Linked DNA regions of Homo sapiens: all the other regions are linked to region 3. The links come from fine-mapping of genetic effects on gene expression. A gene starts in region 3. Each other region holds a variant in brackets. All regions are shown on one strand. Distances are from middle to middle.

The links. PIP is the estimated chance that this variant, and not a neighbour inherited with it, causes the effect.
Region 1: its variant is the best candidate, but not a certain one, in a credible set for the expression of DCAF7 in sigmoid colon (GTEx, PIP 0.59).
Region 2: its variant is the best candidate, but not a certain one, in a credible set for the expression of DCAF7 in cerebellum (GTEx, PIP 0.51).

What each region holds. Positions count from the first base shown.
Region 1 is chr17:63,750,676-63,755,675 of GRCh38, reverse strand. It overlaps CCDC47 (coiled-coil domain containing 47), which reads left to right. Exons shown (of 13, transcript NM_020198.3): 9 at 1,158-1,243; 10 at 2,877-2,935; 11 at 3,247-3,356; 12 at 3,569-3,736. Among named protein-coding and RNA genes, the nearest start is that of STRADA, 11 kb to the right of the region's middle. The variant C/T (reference allele first, on the strand shown) is at 2,275.
Region 2 is chr17:63,658,650-63,663,986 of GRCh38, reverse strand. All of the region lies in intron 5 of MAP3K3 (mitogen-activated protein kinase kinase kinase 3), which reads right to left. Among named protein-coding and RNA genes, the nearest start is that of LIMD2, 39 kb to the left of the region's middle. The variant A/G (reference allele first, on the strand shown) is at 2,246.
Region 3 is chr17:63,547,692-63,553,028 of GRCh38, reverse strand. It overlaps DCAF7 (DDB1 and CUL4 associated factor 7), which reads right to left and starts at 2,552. Exons shown (of 7, transcript NM_005828.5): 1 at 2,214-2,552. The coding sequence starts at 2,351. It also overlaps a transcript of KCNH6 not described here. RefSeq lists silencers at 2,059-2,208, 2,229-2,278 and enhancers at 2,429-2,508, 2,949-3,338, 2,638-3,622.

The DNA.
Region 1 (5,000 bases), 200 kb before region 3:
ATCATAAGAATACAGGATAACTCAGAGATGGTTATAAATGTAAGTTCAAGGTGACATGTTTATAAAGGATCCCCTGAAATTATTTTAGGTGTTATCTTTATGCTTTCATTCTTGTTTCGACCATTATTTTGAGAAATATTTTTAGCTGCTCGAAAAGAATCTTAATCATTGGTATGACTAAAAAGGAGTACTACTTTTTTTTTTTTTTTTTTTTTCTTAGTAGAGATGGGGTTTCGCTGTGTTGGCCAGGCTGGTCTGGAATTCCTGGCCTCAAGTGATCCACCCACCTTGGCCTCCCAAAGCGCTTGGATTACAGGCATGAGCCACTGCACCCAGCCTGGAGTACTACTTTAATTCTAAAGAGATTCCCTATCTTATTGAAATTTAATTTTTAAAAAGCTTTAGCCTTGTCCGCGCGCTGTGGTTCACACTTGTAATCTCAACACTTTGGGTGGCGGAGGCAGGAGAATCACTTGAGTCCAGGGATTCAGGACTAGCCTGGGCAACATAGTGAGACCCTGTCTCTACAATAAAAAAATTAGCCAGGTGTGGTTGTGTGTTCCTTTAGTCCCAGCTACTCAGGAGGCTGAGGCAGGAAGATCACTTGAGCCCAGGAGATTAAGGCTATGGTAAGCTATGATTGTGCCACTGCACTCTAGCCTGGGTAAGAGAGCAACACCTTGTCACAAAAAATAAATAAAAAGCAATGAACACGCTTTGGTCTTAATGAAGGACATTGTATAAAAGTAAGGATTGAAAGGTGAATTTCTTTTTTTTTTTTTTTCTTTTTTTTGAGACAGAGTGTTGCTCTGTCGCCCAGACCGGAGTACAGTGGCGTGGTCTCTGCTCACGGCAACCTCCACCTCCCGGGTTCAAACGCTTCTCGTGCCTCAGCCTCTTGGATAGCTGGGGTTACAGGCACATGCCACCATGCCCGGCTAATTTTTTTGTATTTTTAGTAGAGACGGTGTTTCACTGTGTTGGCCAGGCTGATCTCAAATTCTCAAACTCCTTGCCTCAAGTAATCCACCTGCCTCCCAAAGTGCGGGGATTACTGGTGTGAGCCGTTGCACCATCTCAAAGAGTGAATATCTTTAGGAAAAAAAGGGAAATGCATTAAACCTTGCTTTTAAAAAATATTATTTTCTTTTTTTCAGATGGTTCACTTTCTTACACACTATGCTGACAAGATTGAATCTGTTCATTTTTCAGACCAGTTCTCTGGTCCAAAAATTATGCAAGAGTACGTATAAGATAAAATTGTTGAAATTAATTTTCCTCACTAGCTTTCTGTGTTGAAACACCTGTAAGGTGCTTCTGCAATATCCCTTACCAAATGTGTGAAGGAAGTTGGTGACAGGCCTCCACATTTTCCTTTGCTTTGACTGCATGCATCATAAGAGGTCATTGTAAACCTATGGGAGAGAAATGAGCCTCCCCTATCCCAGTTTGTATGTGTCCCTGCATGTTTGTGCCACTGACTCAGTGAGATGGTTGGGAATCTTACAGAATGGCTGGTACTAATAAAATGCAGTGGGTTTTTTTGTTTTGTTTTGTTTTTTGTTTGTTTGAGACGCTGTCTCACTCTGTTGCCTAGGCTGGAGTGCGGTGGCACAATCTTGGTTCACTGCAACCTCCGCCTCCCGGGTTCAAGCAATTCTCCTGTCTCAGCCTCCTGAGTAGCTGGGATTACAGGCGTGCACCACCACGCTCGGCTAATTTTTGTATTTTTAGTAGAGATGGGGTTTCACCATGTTGGTCAGGCTGGTCTCGAACTCCTGACCTCGTGATCCACCTGCCTTGGCCTCCCAAAGTGCTGGAATTATAAGCGTGAGCCACCATGCCCCAGTCCATAGGTTCTTTTTTTTTATGATAATAATTTGTGTGTGATGTTTGACTTATGTCTGATTACAAATCTGTGTGTTTTGTAATTTATGGCCTTTTCTGGCTTCCCTCTTTGAATAGTTAAGTGATTGTATCCTTTCCTAGCATAGAAGCCCACAATGTCCATAGGGTTTCTAGCTTTATAGTAATACTGTTCAGGAGTACATATTCAGGACTTGGATTTGTTCTTTGAATTCACAGCCTGTCTCAGGAGAGCATATTTATTTACCTTTATGCTCGGTTTGAAACTGGTTCTGACTAAATTTTTAGTTAAAGACTACCCTCTGATAGGCTGTGGAGTTGAGCACAATTCAAGCCAATCTGGATTTTAGTTGTATACTAAGATTACTCAGGTCCTTATGCCTCTAGATAGTGCTGCATCATCCTTGT[C/T]TTGCTCAACTCAGTGGCACTGAGGACAGTGTTTCACATTGTAGCATTCATCATGCCTTTTAAATATGAGATGGAGGGCAATTGATAGTCAAAGGATTCATATAGGCAGAGATTACAAAGGAATCTTCAATGACAGAACTAAATTATATATGCTGTAGTAGATTATCCCTAAATTTACTCTGAGCCTAACTCAAAAATAAGATAATAAGATGCCTTGTTATAGGAAGATAGAATAGGAGTTGGAAATAAAACATAAAAATGCATCAAAATAAGCAAAAATGTATCTAAAATATGGGCCTCATACTTAAATATAGGCTCATTTCTGGCTCCCCAGGTGAGATGGAATATACCCTTGCCTGGAGGGAACATCACTGGAGGTGTTCAAATATAGGATAAAGATCACTTGAGAATGCATCCATCAGATAGACGAGTGGACCAGATGACCTGTAAAGCTCCTTCATTATATTTGACTTGGGTATGCCAAGCCAAATACTGTGCTGATTATGTGCAGGTATCTGTTCATCTAAGTGTATTGGGTGACTTGTGTACATGGAAAACATCTTTCTTGTATTCCTTCTTAATTGCCTTTTCTTTTATGACAGGGAAGGTCAGCCTTTAAAGCTACCTGACACTAAGAGGACACTGTTGTTTACATTTAATGGTAAGTATTCTGGGTCCTTTCTGGGTTCTTAGTCTTCTCTGAGATGACCTTAAGGAGAGTATTGTTTCCTCCTAAATGATAGCTTTAAAACTACGTCAAAACTATAAGCCTGTGCTTGCTTACTGATTTCCAGATTTCTTCAAGAAGAAATTACCTATTATATATTTTAATTTATATTTTCTGCTGCATTTTAACTGCCTAACAAACTTAGAGAAATGAGTCTCTTAAGATTAAAAAAAAAAAAGAGTTGGGTGACCTGGAAATATTAATGCTACCATTAACTCAGTAGGAAAAATGGCTTTGTTTTCCAGTGCCTGGCTCAGGTAACACTTACCCAAAGGATATGGAGGCACTGCTACCCCTGATGAACATGGTGATTTATTCTATTGATAAAGCCAAAAAGTTCCGACTCAACAGAGAAGTAAGACCCAATGCCTGTATTATATAAATTGGCACCTTTTTTTGTTTCTTCTCAAGGGGGAGGGCAGCTATCAATGATTTCAGTGACTGAATTTTTGCTAGTTGATTTAGAAGTGCCAAATGGGAGTAGTTTTATGAAAGAATGCTAAACGGGATTTTGTTGCTGTTGACTAGAAATGGATTTCTTATGAAATACTTTGTTTCTTGGGGAAGGGCAAACAAAAAGCAGATAAGAACCGTGCCCGAGTAGAAGAGAACTTCTTGAAACTGACACATGTGCAAAGACAGGAAGCAGCACAGTCTCGGCGGGAGGAGAAAAAAAGAGCAGAGAAGGAGCGAATCATGAATGAGGAAGATCCTGAGAAACAGCGCAGGCTGGAGGTTAGACAAACTTATCACTGGGGTAAAACTACGATTTGTAAGGATGACTGCTTGTGTTCTGTTGGTTGTTAAGGTAATCTTTGTAGGCTAAAAGTTTAGCATTTTCTCAACATTTGGGACATTGTATCAATTGATAACACTATAAAGAAGAATAAATAATCCTTCCTGTTCAAGCCGTGCCACACTGAGTCTGTGAACGTGAAAAATTATCAGTATTATCCTGTTCCCCCAGCACAATTTCATTTTGAAAATTCCATTATCAGTTTTCGAGCCAAACACTTTGGTAGAAAGAAGTTAGAAATTTTAATAGAAGGCAGCACATGCGCCCTATTATCTAAATAAACTTGCTATGTAAAATTTAAAATCTGATTATAGAATTAGAGATTTCCAATATTTTTGTTTGTATTTTTGTTTTCTGTTTTTTACCTAACTAGAATCTCAAACTCAAAAGCTTTTTGGGTATAGTATGTTATATTTGAAAGCTCGGTATGATCTGATGTGTTTCTGAAATAAGATGCCATAGTCCAGCTCTAAATTTTTTTTTTTTTTTTTTTTTTTTTTTTTTTTTTTTTTTGAGATGGAGTCTCACTCTGTCACCCAGGCTGGAGTGCAATGGCGCAATATTGGCTCAGTGCAGTCTCCGCCTCCCGGGTTCAAGCCATTCTCCTGCCTCAGCCTCCCAAGTAGCTGGGACTACAGGTGTGCGCCACTCAGCTCTAAATTTTAGACCTTGTAAATGCTGGTCAAGAAAGAGAACAAAGGCCAGGTGCAGTGGCTCACGCTTGTAATCCCAGCACTTTGGGAGGCTAAGGCAAGCAGATTGCTTGAGCCCAGGAGTTCAAAACAAGCCTGGGCAACATCATGAGACCTTGTCTCTACTAGTAAAAAAAAAAAAAAATTAGCTGTGCATAGTGGTGCATACCTGTAGTCCCAACTACTTGGGAGACTGAAGTGGAAGGATTACTTGAACCTGGGAGATTGAGGCTGCAGTGAGCTATGATCACACCACTGCACTCTAGCCTGGGCAGCCAAAAAAAAAAGAGGGAGAGGACAGGCCGGGCGTGGTGGCTCACGCCTGTAATCCCAGCACTTTGGGAGGCTGAGGCGGGAGGATCACAAGGTCAGGAGTTCGAGACCAGCCTGACCAACATGCTGAAACCCCGTCTCTACTAAAAACAAACAAAAAAATCAGCTGGGCGTGGTGGCGCGTGCCTGTAATCCCAGCTACTCAGGAGGCTGAGGCAGGAGAATTGCTTGAACCTGA
Region 2 (5,337 bases), 110 kb before region 3:
ACAGGCGTGAGCCACCGCGCCCGGCCTAAAGCCCTTTTTAAAATCTGCTTTGAAGCTACACAATTTCAGAATAATAGATGCCACATATATCATCTTTTTTGTTTTTGAGACAGGGTCTTGCTCAATGAGTGCAGTGGTGCAATCATAGCTCATCGCAGCCTGGAATTCCTTGGCTCAAGTGATCCTCCCGCCTCAGCCTCCCAGGTAGGTGGAATTGCAGGCATTTGCCACCACGACTGATTTTAAAACTTTTGTAGAGATGGGGGTCTTGCTATGTTACCCAGGCTGGTTTATCACTTGTTATACAAATTATTTCTTTTTTGTTCTAAGATAATGCTCAATATTCAAGGAGTTCATCCAAATTGAGATTAGGTGAATAAATCCGTGTCTTCATTATCCATGCTCTTAAACGCTTTAAAGACTCTGATTATATATGCTTAGGCTGTCTTTCCTAACTAAAGAGTTCTAAACTTTTTTTTTTTTTTTGAGACGGAGTTTCGCTCATCGCCCAGGCTGGAGTGCAATGGCACAATCTCGGCTCACTGCAACCTCCGCCTCCCAGGTTCAAGCAATTCTCCTGCCTCAGCCTCCCGAGTATCTGGGATTGCGGGCATGCGCCACCACGCTCAGCTAATTTTGTATTTTCAGTAGAGACAGGGTTTCACCATGTTGGTCAGGCCGGTATCAAATTCCTGACCTCAAGGGATCCACCTACCTCAGCCTCCCAAAGTGCTGGGATTACAGGCATGAGCCACCACGCCTGGCCAAGCATTGTAAACTTTTACACTGTTCATATATGAAAGTGACTCCAACTCCTTGAAAATTTTGTCTTCTGGACATTTGCTAGCTCAGTTGTCTTCAAAGCTGCAGGGAACAGAATGATACAACATCTCACAAGTTCTCCTCATGGACAGTATTATACTTTCTGCTTGGCTTCTAATGATTTCCAACCGTGGAGGCACCTGGGTGAGGTTTCCCAAGGACTACAATAATTCTAAGAACCCTCTTCTGGGGCCGGGCGTGGTGGCTCACAACTGTAATCCCAGCACTTTGGGAGGCCAAGGCGGTCAGATCATTTGAAGTTTAAGAGTTCGAGACCAGCCCGGCCAACATGGTGAGGACCGCCCCCCGCCCAACCCCATCTCCACTAAAAATACAAAAATTAACCGGGCGTAGTGGCGCACGCCTGTAATCCCAGCTACTAGGGAGGCTGAGGCAGGAGAATCGCTTGAACCCGGGAGATGGAGGCTGCGGTGAGCTGAGATTGCGCCACTGCACTCCAACCTGGGTGACAGAGTGAGACTCCATCCCAAAAAAAAAAAAAAAAAAAAAAAAATTCCCTCTTCTGGATGGTGACTGACAGGCACTAGACTACAAGTCAGAACATCTGGATTTCAGACCAGCTCTGTCACTACACACTGCCTCACCTGAGCAGTCACCCTAAGTCTCAGTTTCCCCAGATGTAGACTGGAGATAATAGACGCCTGCCCTGGTACCCTCAGAGTTGTAAAAATCAAGTGAAAGATAAAAACACTTTTTATGTGCTAGGTGTTGTTATTATTACTATTATTCGAGACAGGGTCTTACTCTGTCACCCAGGCTGGAGTGCAGTGTTGCAATCTTGGCTCACTGCGGCCTCAACCTCCCGGCCTCAGGTGATTCTCCCACCTCAGCCACTCAAGTAGCTAAGACCACAGGCACGCACCACACCTGGCTAATTTTCGTTTTTTTTTTTTTTTTTTCAATAGAGACAGGGTTTCGCCATGTTGCTCAGGCTGGTCTCAAACTCCTAGGCTCAAGTAATCTGCCTGCCTCAGCCTCCCAAAGTGCTGAGATTACAGGTGTGAGCCACCATGCCCAGCCCAATGTTATTATTATTGAGATGAGATGGAGTCTCGCTCTGTGGCTCAGGCTGGAGTGCAATGGCGCAATCCTGGCTCACTGCAAGCTCCGCCTCCTGGGTTCATGTCATTCTCCTGCCTCAGCCTCCCGAGTAGCTGGGACTACAGGCACCTGCCACCACGCCCAGCTAATTTTTTGTATTTTTTAGTAGAGATGGGGTTTCACGTGTTAGCCAGGATGGTCTCCATCTCCTGACCTTGTGATCCGCCTGCCTCGGCCTCCCAAAGTGCTGGGATTACAGGCGTGAGCCACCGCGCCCGGCCCAGTGTTTATTTTTAACAGGGGCCAGAAGAAGCTATTCTGCCCAATCAGGTTTGTTTTATCTTCCTGCACCTGTCCCACT[A/G]TTTTACAAGGACTGAAAAGAATTACCTTTTAAATTATCCTTGATATTTTTAACTTACAATATTTAGGTGAGAAGATTAGAAGCTTATTTTTGTCAACGCGAATATGAGGTAACAAAACAAAGTGGCTAGGTGTTTAGTTTTTATCGTATACAAATACAAGTTACAAAAGAAGGTTCAGCTTGATATTACTTTATGACAGTGGAAGATCTGAGACTAGAAAGTCCTAAGAAGGTCAAGAGCTGAAAGACAAATGTAAAAGTTAGATGCATAAGCTAAAAGTTGGTGGTCCAAAGCAGAGGCTTAGGACAGCAAAAACTACAGAAGGAGACAATGAAGTATCTTAAAATGATGGTAGAGACCAAGGCTAGAGAGAGGCTTTTCAGACAAAGAGACTGGCCAGATCCGGTGGCTCACACCTGTAATCTCAGCACTTTGAGAAGCTGAGGCGTGCGGATCACTTGAGGTCAGGAGTTTGAGACTAGCCTCGCCAACAGTGCGAAACCCCATCTCTACCAAAAATACAAAACTTAGCCGGGCATGGTGGCATGCACCTGTAATCCCAGCTACTCAGGAGGCTGAGGCAGGAGAATCACTTGAATCTGGGAGGCGGAGGTTGCAATGAGCTGAGATCGTACCTGGGTGACAGAGTGAAACTGTGCCTCAAAATAAAAAAAAAGAGATAGTTCTGTGATTACCAAAACTCAGGAGTTCTCAAGAATAATATTGAGGCCTCTCAGACATGGCCTTGGCCAAAGTGAGGTGGGAGAGGTAAGACTATGTACCTTGTGAGGAATGAAGACAGAAGGAAAATTAGAAGCTGCCATATAGGGATCAGAAGAATCCAAGGCGGGGTGCAGTGGCTCATGCCTGTAATCCCAGCACTTTGGGAGGCCGAGACAGGCGGATCACCTGAGGTCGGGAGTTCAAGACCAGCCTGACCAACATGGAGAAACTCCGTCTCTACTAAAAAAAAATACAAAATTAGGCGGTTGTGGTGGTGCATGCCTGTAACCCCAGCTACTGGGGAGGCTGAGGCAGGAGAATCACTTGAACCTGGAAGCCAGAGGTTGCGGTGAGCCAAGATCACACCCCTGCACTCCAGCCTGGGCAACAAGAGTGAAACTCCATCTCAAATAAAAAAAAAAAGAAAAGAAGAAGAAGAAGAAGAAGAAGAATCCAAAGAGAAGAAAGAGATAGCACAATTCAAAACAGGAACAAGAAGAGAAACAGCCAGGTATGGTGGCTCAAACCTGTAATCCCAGCACTTTGCGAGGCTGAGACAGAAGGATTGCTTGAGCCCAGGAGTTTGAGACCAGCTTGGGCAACATGGCAAGACCCTGTCTCTACAAACAATTAAAAAAAAAAAAAGAAAAGCCAAGCATGGGGGCACACGCCTGTAGTCCCAGTTACTTGTGAGGCTGAGATGGGAGGAAGATAACTTGAGTCTGGGAGGTTGAGGCTGTGGTGAGCTGTCACTGCGCCACTGCACTCCAGCTTGGGTGACAGAGTAAGATCCCATCTCAAAAAAAAAGGGAAATAAAGGAATAGGTGGTAACAAAAGGCGGTGAGGCAACTGCTACAAATGCAGGAAATTCAAAGTGGAGAAACAAAGTGACTGACAGTATCAGCGGAGGTGATGAAGACCAGGTGATATAGTATCCTGGAGCAGTGTACTTAAGGTATGATATCTGGGCTGGTGCCAGTCCACACACTGGTATACTGCTCGTCCTGCTCTTCCACCAAGTAAGTAAAGAAATGGAGAGGGCCCTTTGAAAAACTTTAGAGCAATTTGGCAGAGTGATTTTATGTTTATTGAATCTACTAATGAAAACTGTAGCCTTATAATTTATATACCTCTAGTTTATTTTTCCATTTCACTTCTCAGTTTTTGTATTTAAAAAAAGAACTGGTACGGCCGGGCACAGTGGCTCATGCCTGTCCCAGTACTTTGGGAGGCCAAGGCGGGCGGATCACAAGGTCAGGAGTTCAAGACCAGTCTGGCCAACATGGTGAAACCCCTTCTCTACTAAAAATACAAAAATTAGCGGGGCGTGGTGTCGTGCACCTGTAATCCCAGCTTCTCGGGAGGCTGAGGCAGAAGAATTGCTTGAACCCGGGAGGTGGAGGTTGCAGTGAGCCGAGATCACGCCACTGCACTCCGGCCTGGGCGACAGAGTGAGACTCCATCTCCAAAAAAAAAAAAAAAAAAAAAAAAGTCCATGACAGATTTGAAATCAAAAGAACAAAACTGATATTTCATCACATATAGTTAGAGGAACACTGTTCTAGAGGTGAGGATTCCTGAGCACAGAGCAATTTTGGATCATAATTCTTCCATTTATTAAGAAGCCTAAAGTCTAGGTGAGGAAGTTCTGGAGGAAAGATTTCATCACCAAACATTACCATTGTTACTCTTAAATGTAAATATTTATAAATGCAAAAAACAGGAGCAGTTTCTGTGTCCCAACAGTAGCAAAAATGGTTATTTAATTAAATTATGGTATATCGACTCAAGAGAAACATGTATCCTTACAAATTATAATTACAACATAGAAAAATGTTCACCACAGGCTGGGTGTAGTGGCTCACACTTGTAATCCCAGCACTTTGCAAGGCTAAAGTGGGTGGATCATTTGAGCTCAGGAATTCAAGACCAGCCTGGGCAACACAGTGAGACCCCATCTCTACTAAAAAAATTAAAAAATGGCCGGGCACAGTGGCTCACGCCTGTAATCCCAACACTTTGGGAGTCCGAGGCGGGTGGATCACCTGAGGTCAGGAATTTGAGACCAGCCTGACGAACATGGTGAAACCTTGTCTCTACTAAAAAATACAAAAATTAGCCAGGCATGGTGGCGGGCACCTATAATCCCAGCTACTCGAGAGGCTGAAGCAGGAGAATCATTTGAAGCCAGGAGGCGGAGGCTGCAGTGAGCTAAGATCACACCATTGCATTCCAGCCTGGGCAACAAGAGCAAAACTCTGTCTCAAAAAAAAAAAAAAAAAGAAAAGAAATGGTCAGCATGAGCAGCATTCCACCTAAACTTTGTCCTAGTCACTACACCCACACTTATGCTGCCATGTTGGCTGT
Region 3 (5,337 bases):
TCAGATGACCATGGCACACAGAATTTAAGAACCCTGATCTACTGATAGGTGGAGGCACAAAAATGATTTTAAGACAGCGCATTGCCTACATCATGTGAGTTAAGATATAGTTAACTGCTAATGCTGTTGATAGTGGGGTTATTAGTTTGCATTTCACTGCTAAGCCATGCTACCTGTGTGCCTGTCACAAAGAGGAAGCTCCAGATAGTTGCTAAATGAAAGGACAAACTGGGGTAGAGTTCCTGCAACAGCAGTTTGACTACTCCACTGATCCTACCAAGCAGCCTAACTGTGGCTCAGTTTCTCCTCTCTGAGGAATAGGAGTAACTATTGCTTACCCAACGACCCTGGAAAAACTTACAAGAAAAAACATTAATTTGTGTAAAAAGACTTAAGCCCTTTGAAAGACATACTTTTTTATTTTCCACGTGTATCTTTAAACAATAGTTCTAGTGGTCTTAATTTTATTAACACGGTGTCCACATCAGAATCGTGAATCCCATTTCCAGTTCTGCTGTCCACTATGGGCCATAAGGAAGAAAGAAGCAACAGAGGAAAGAAAGCTCTATCTCGCCCGGGCAATGGGTGGACTTAAAGATCAGTGCATATTCCTTGGATTTGTTTGTAAATTGTTCATGTATGTGTAATGTCTGGACAATGAGAATCCATAGCTTTCATCAGCTTCTCAAAGTGGACTCCAAAGAGGACCTACTCTAGAGAAACAAATGTGCTCCTGAAAAACTGTAAACAAACTGTGAAATGTTCAAATTTCTTTTTTACAAGACCCTCACATGTAAACCAGAACCCCTTCCGTACAAACTGTGGGTCACAGATAATAAAACAGGCCTGTGCAACATCTCACAGCTAGTCAATAACCAGACAGGACCACCTGGTTTCTTCCCCCCTGCATCAGCCTTGTCACTGAACAGTTTTATTCTTCTTTTTTTTTCTGAGACAGAGTCTCACTCTGTCGCCCAGGCTGGAGTGCAGTGGCGCCATCTCGGCTCACTGCAACCTCCGCCTCCCAGGTTCAAGCAATTCTCCAGCCTCAGACTTCCGAGTAGCTGGGACTACAGGCGCACTAAGCTACGCCCGGCTTTTTTTTTTTTTTTTTTTTTTTTTTTTTTTTTTTTTTTTGTATTTTAGTAGAGACGGGGTTTCACCGTGTTACCCAGGCTGGTCGCGAACTCCTGAGCTCAGGTAATCCGCCCGCCTCGGCCTCCCAAAGTCCTGGGATTACAGGCGTGAGCCACCGCGCCCGGCCAGTTTTACTCTTCTTAAATCTGATGTTCATGGCATAAAGCAGGAGTAGTGGCTTTAAATATCACTAGCCACAGCTTTCAGTTGCTCTGATCGCTATCATTCACAACTTTGAGTAAAAGGAAGAAAGAAAATTCTTCCAACTGACTTATTCAACTTTCAAAAATGAGTTTGTTGCAATGCCAGTTTAAAAGCTCCCCTACTACACCGTGCTTCTATAAAGGATTCTCAAATTGATGTATGTCCAGCAAGACTTACTACTAAAGGTCACACAACTGTACTAGCACGAAACAAGCCAAGAGATAAGGCCCTGTCATCCTTCTGTGTTCAGGAAACAACGGCGGGATCATGCCACAGGCCAAGATTTCCAAAGAGATTGCTTTAGAGAGAATGGATATCAGGAAGCAAGAGCAACAGTAATTCTGGCAGAAGGGCTAGGATCCATGAGTACCCGGGGGGGGTGGGAGTAGGGGGCGGGGAAGCTTGTACAATAGATCGTCTTAATAGAAATCTAGTGTGGCCAGGAGTGCACGACCACCAATAGAAGCGCCTGCATTTTCCTTCACAGCTATCACTCTCTCTTCCCTTCCCCGCCCACCAACGAAAGCAATGCGGCAGGAGTGGAGAGCACGGGATGAATAAATGGAGTATCTTTGGGGCGTAAACCCGGTTTTAAGACCTGTTTCCACCCCGAAATAGCTGCCTGACCCAGGCAAGTCACAAAACCGTGCCTCAGTTTCCCCACTACACTGCCGACTACACAAGAATGCTGCCTGGATTAAAGGAGACAGACAACGAGTACGAAACCTTCAGCACAGGGCCAGACAGAGGAACCGCTCCGTGGCCCTAGGGCGAGTCCGCAAGAGGGTTCTGAGGCCTGGGCTCCGGCCCGGAAAGGGCGCTCCCGGGGCCCGCTCCCCGCCAGCTGGGTTCCGAGCCCCTGCCCGGCCCACCTTGTTGTTGTACTCCTCCACGAAGCTGCCCAGCGCCAAGCGAAAGCGCTTATCGGGCCGCACACTCCAGTTCATCGCGTAGACTGTCCAGGGCGCTTCATACTTGTAGATCTCCTTCCGTTTGCCGTGCAGGGACATGGTGGCCACGGGGCCGCAGTACGGGCCGGGTCAACAGTGGGCTGCGGCGGGCGGGGAGCCGAGCCTGAGATCTATGGGTCCGAAGGGAGGAGAGGAGGGGGCGGGCAGGAACGGCCTAACCCGGAAGCGGGGATGCGGCGACAAACAACGACGACGGCCGAGCCCGACCCCTAGTTTCAAACCAGCTTGGGAACGGACGACAACCACCTTCCGTTTTGGGACGCCGCCCCGCCCTCTCGGAACGGAAGCCGCCGGACCCCCGCAGCGGCACCGGCCGTTGGTTGCCTGACACGTCCTTTCGAAAGGATTCTTTCTTGTCATTGGTTATTGCGGCCGTAGCGTCTGAAATCTCCTCGCTATTGGGTTAAATGTTTGTCATTGCAACTACTCGCCCCGCCCAACTCTCGGAGGCAGGCGCTTTGGCAGCCCCAAAGGTCATTGGTTGGCCAAGATGTCAGTCAGGCAGATAACGGCTCAGTGCGGGTGGTGGGGGCGTGGGTGGCCTGGAGGCGAGCGTGCTGTAGCAGCGGGCCTCCAAGTTCTAGGCCAAGTCTCTGAGAGTGAAACCGTCTGTGACCTGCGCTGACTTCCCCTCCGCTGCTGCTGTTCTGAGCGGCCTCTCCACGCTGTCGAGTAAAAGTACAATTCTGCCTTAGTGGAAGACCTACTGACTTTCGCGGGACAGAGCCCTGCGGCCTGGCAGCCTGGCCTGCGCCCAACGGGTACCACCTTCCCGCCCCATCTCTTCCCAGGGCCCTTTTAACCCGAAAGCTGCTCTCTCCGTGCCTCAGGGACAGGCTTCGGGCGCGCAGATGCGCTCAGGGCCAGGCCAGCTTGAGTCAGGCCCTCCCGCGCTTTCCTGCAGGATCTAGAAATGTCCCCGAATTCTGGGGTAGGCACCGACCCGACCAGCTTGGCTCTGTTTTTGTCAGTTCCCATCCTGTACCCTTCCCGCCGTGGATCCCAACGCAAATGCTAATCCAGCCCCAAAGGTATCTGTGCCTGTGAGTTGGAAAAGGGGAAGGGCCAGAGACCAAATGACACCTTTATATAAATTATTTCCAATTCTCAGCTTTCATCAAAATTGAAGGAGGTTTGTATTGAATTGTTGGATGATAACATTAAATACTTTTTTTTTTTTTTTTTAAAGACAGGGTCTTGCCCTGTCACCCAGGCTGGAGTGCACTGGTGTGATAAGGGCTCACTGTAGCCTGGACTGCCTAGGTTCAAACGATTCCCCCACTTTAGCCTCTGGAGTAGCTGGAACCACAGACATTTGCCACCACACCTAGCTATTTTTAAATTATTATTTGTAGAGATGAGATCTCTCCATGTTGCCCAGGCTGATCTCGAACTCCTGGGCTCAAGCGATCCTCCCACATCAGCATCCTAAAGTACTGGGATTACAGGCTTGAGCCACCATTCTGGGCACTAAATATAATTTTTAATGATAAATGATTTTTCCACCTCCCAGGTTCAAGTGATTCTCCTGCTTCAGCCTCCCGAGTAGCTGAGATTACAGGGGTGCACCACCACAGCCAGCTAATTTTTGTATTTTTAGTAGAGATGGGGTTTCACCATGTTGGCCATTCTGGTGTCGAACTCCTGACCTCAAATGATCTTCCAGCCTCGGCCTCCCAAAGTGTTGGGATTACAGGCGTGAGCCACCGCATCTGGCCAAGAAATCCTCTTTTTTTTTTAATTTTATTTTATTTTTGAGATGGAGTCTCACTCTGTCGCCCGGGCTGTAGTGCAGTGGCACTATCTCGGCTCACTGCAACCTCTGCCTTTAGGGTTCAAGTGATTCTCTTGCTTCAGCCTCCTGAGTAGCTGGGATTACAGGCGCCCGCCACCATGCCCAGCTAAAGGAAATCCCCTGTAAGGAGGAAAGTTTAAAAACAAATTTAAAAAGGAAAGAAAAAGACGTACAAAATTCGCGGTACCTTGTCTTATTCTAATAAAAAATAATGATATTTATCCACAGATATAGGAACTAACGGGGGGAGGAAATTTTCTCTTTTATGACGTATATTTCCAATAAAATTTTAGTTTTTATTAGAAAATTGAATATATATTTATGTTGTTTTGAACAACTGTACTACTAATAGATGTAACCCTTAAAGCCTTATTAAGGTTACAAAAATTAATTTTAAAATGTCAATTAATTTATACACATTCGTTTTGAGGCAGGGTCTTGCTCTGTTATCCAGGTGGTGGTGCAGTGGGGCAAACAGTGCTTATTGCAGCCTTGACCTCCCGGGCTCAAGCAATCCTCCTGCCTCCTTTATTTTTTGTAGAGACAAGATCTTGCTATGTTGCCCAGGCTGGGTTCAACTGGTCCTCCCACCTCAGCCTCCCAAAATGCTGGGATTATAGGCATGAGCCACCCCATGACCGACCTACTTTTTTTTTGAAACGGAGTCTTGCTCTGTTGCCCACGCTGGAGTGCAGTGGCACGATCTTGGCTCACTACAAGCTCCACCTCCTGGGTTCACGCCATTCTCCTGCCTCAGCCTCCCGAGTAGCTGGGACTACAGGCACCTGCCACCACGCCTGGCTATTTTTTTTGTATTTTTAGTAGAGATGGGGTTTCACCCTGTTAGCCAGGATGGTCTTGATCTCCTGACCTCGTGATCTGCCCACCTCAGCCTCCCAAAGTGCTGGGATTACAGGTGTGAGCCACTGCGCCCAGCCACTTTTTTTTTTTTTTTTAAGAGACCGAGTCTTGCTCTGTTACCCGGGCTGGAGTACAGTTGCATGAACATGGCTTACTGCAGTCTTGACCTCTTAGGTTCAAGTGACTCTCCCACCCAAGCCTCCCAGCAAGCCCTGTAGTACCTGGGACTACAGGTGCGCATCACAATGCTTGGCTAATTAAAAAAAAATTGTTTTGTAGAGACCAGGTTGAGCTATGCTGCCCAGGCTGGTCTTGAATTCCTGGCTCAAGCAATCTTCCAGCCTCAGCCTCCCAAAGTGTTGGGATTAC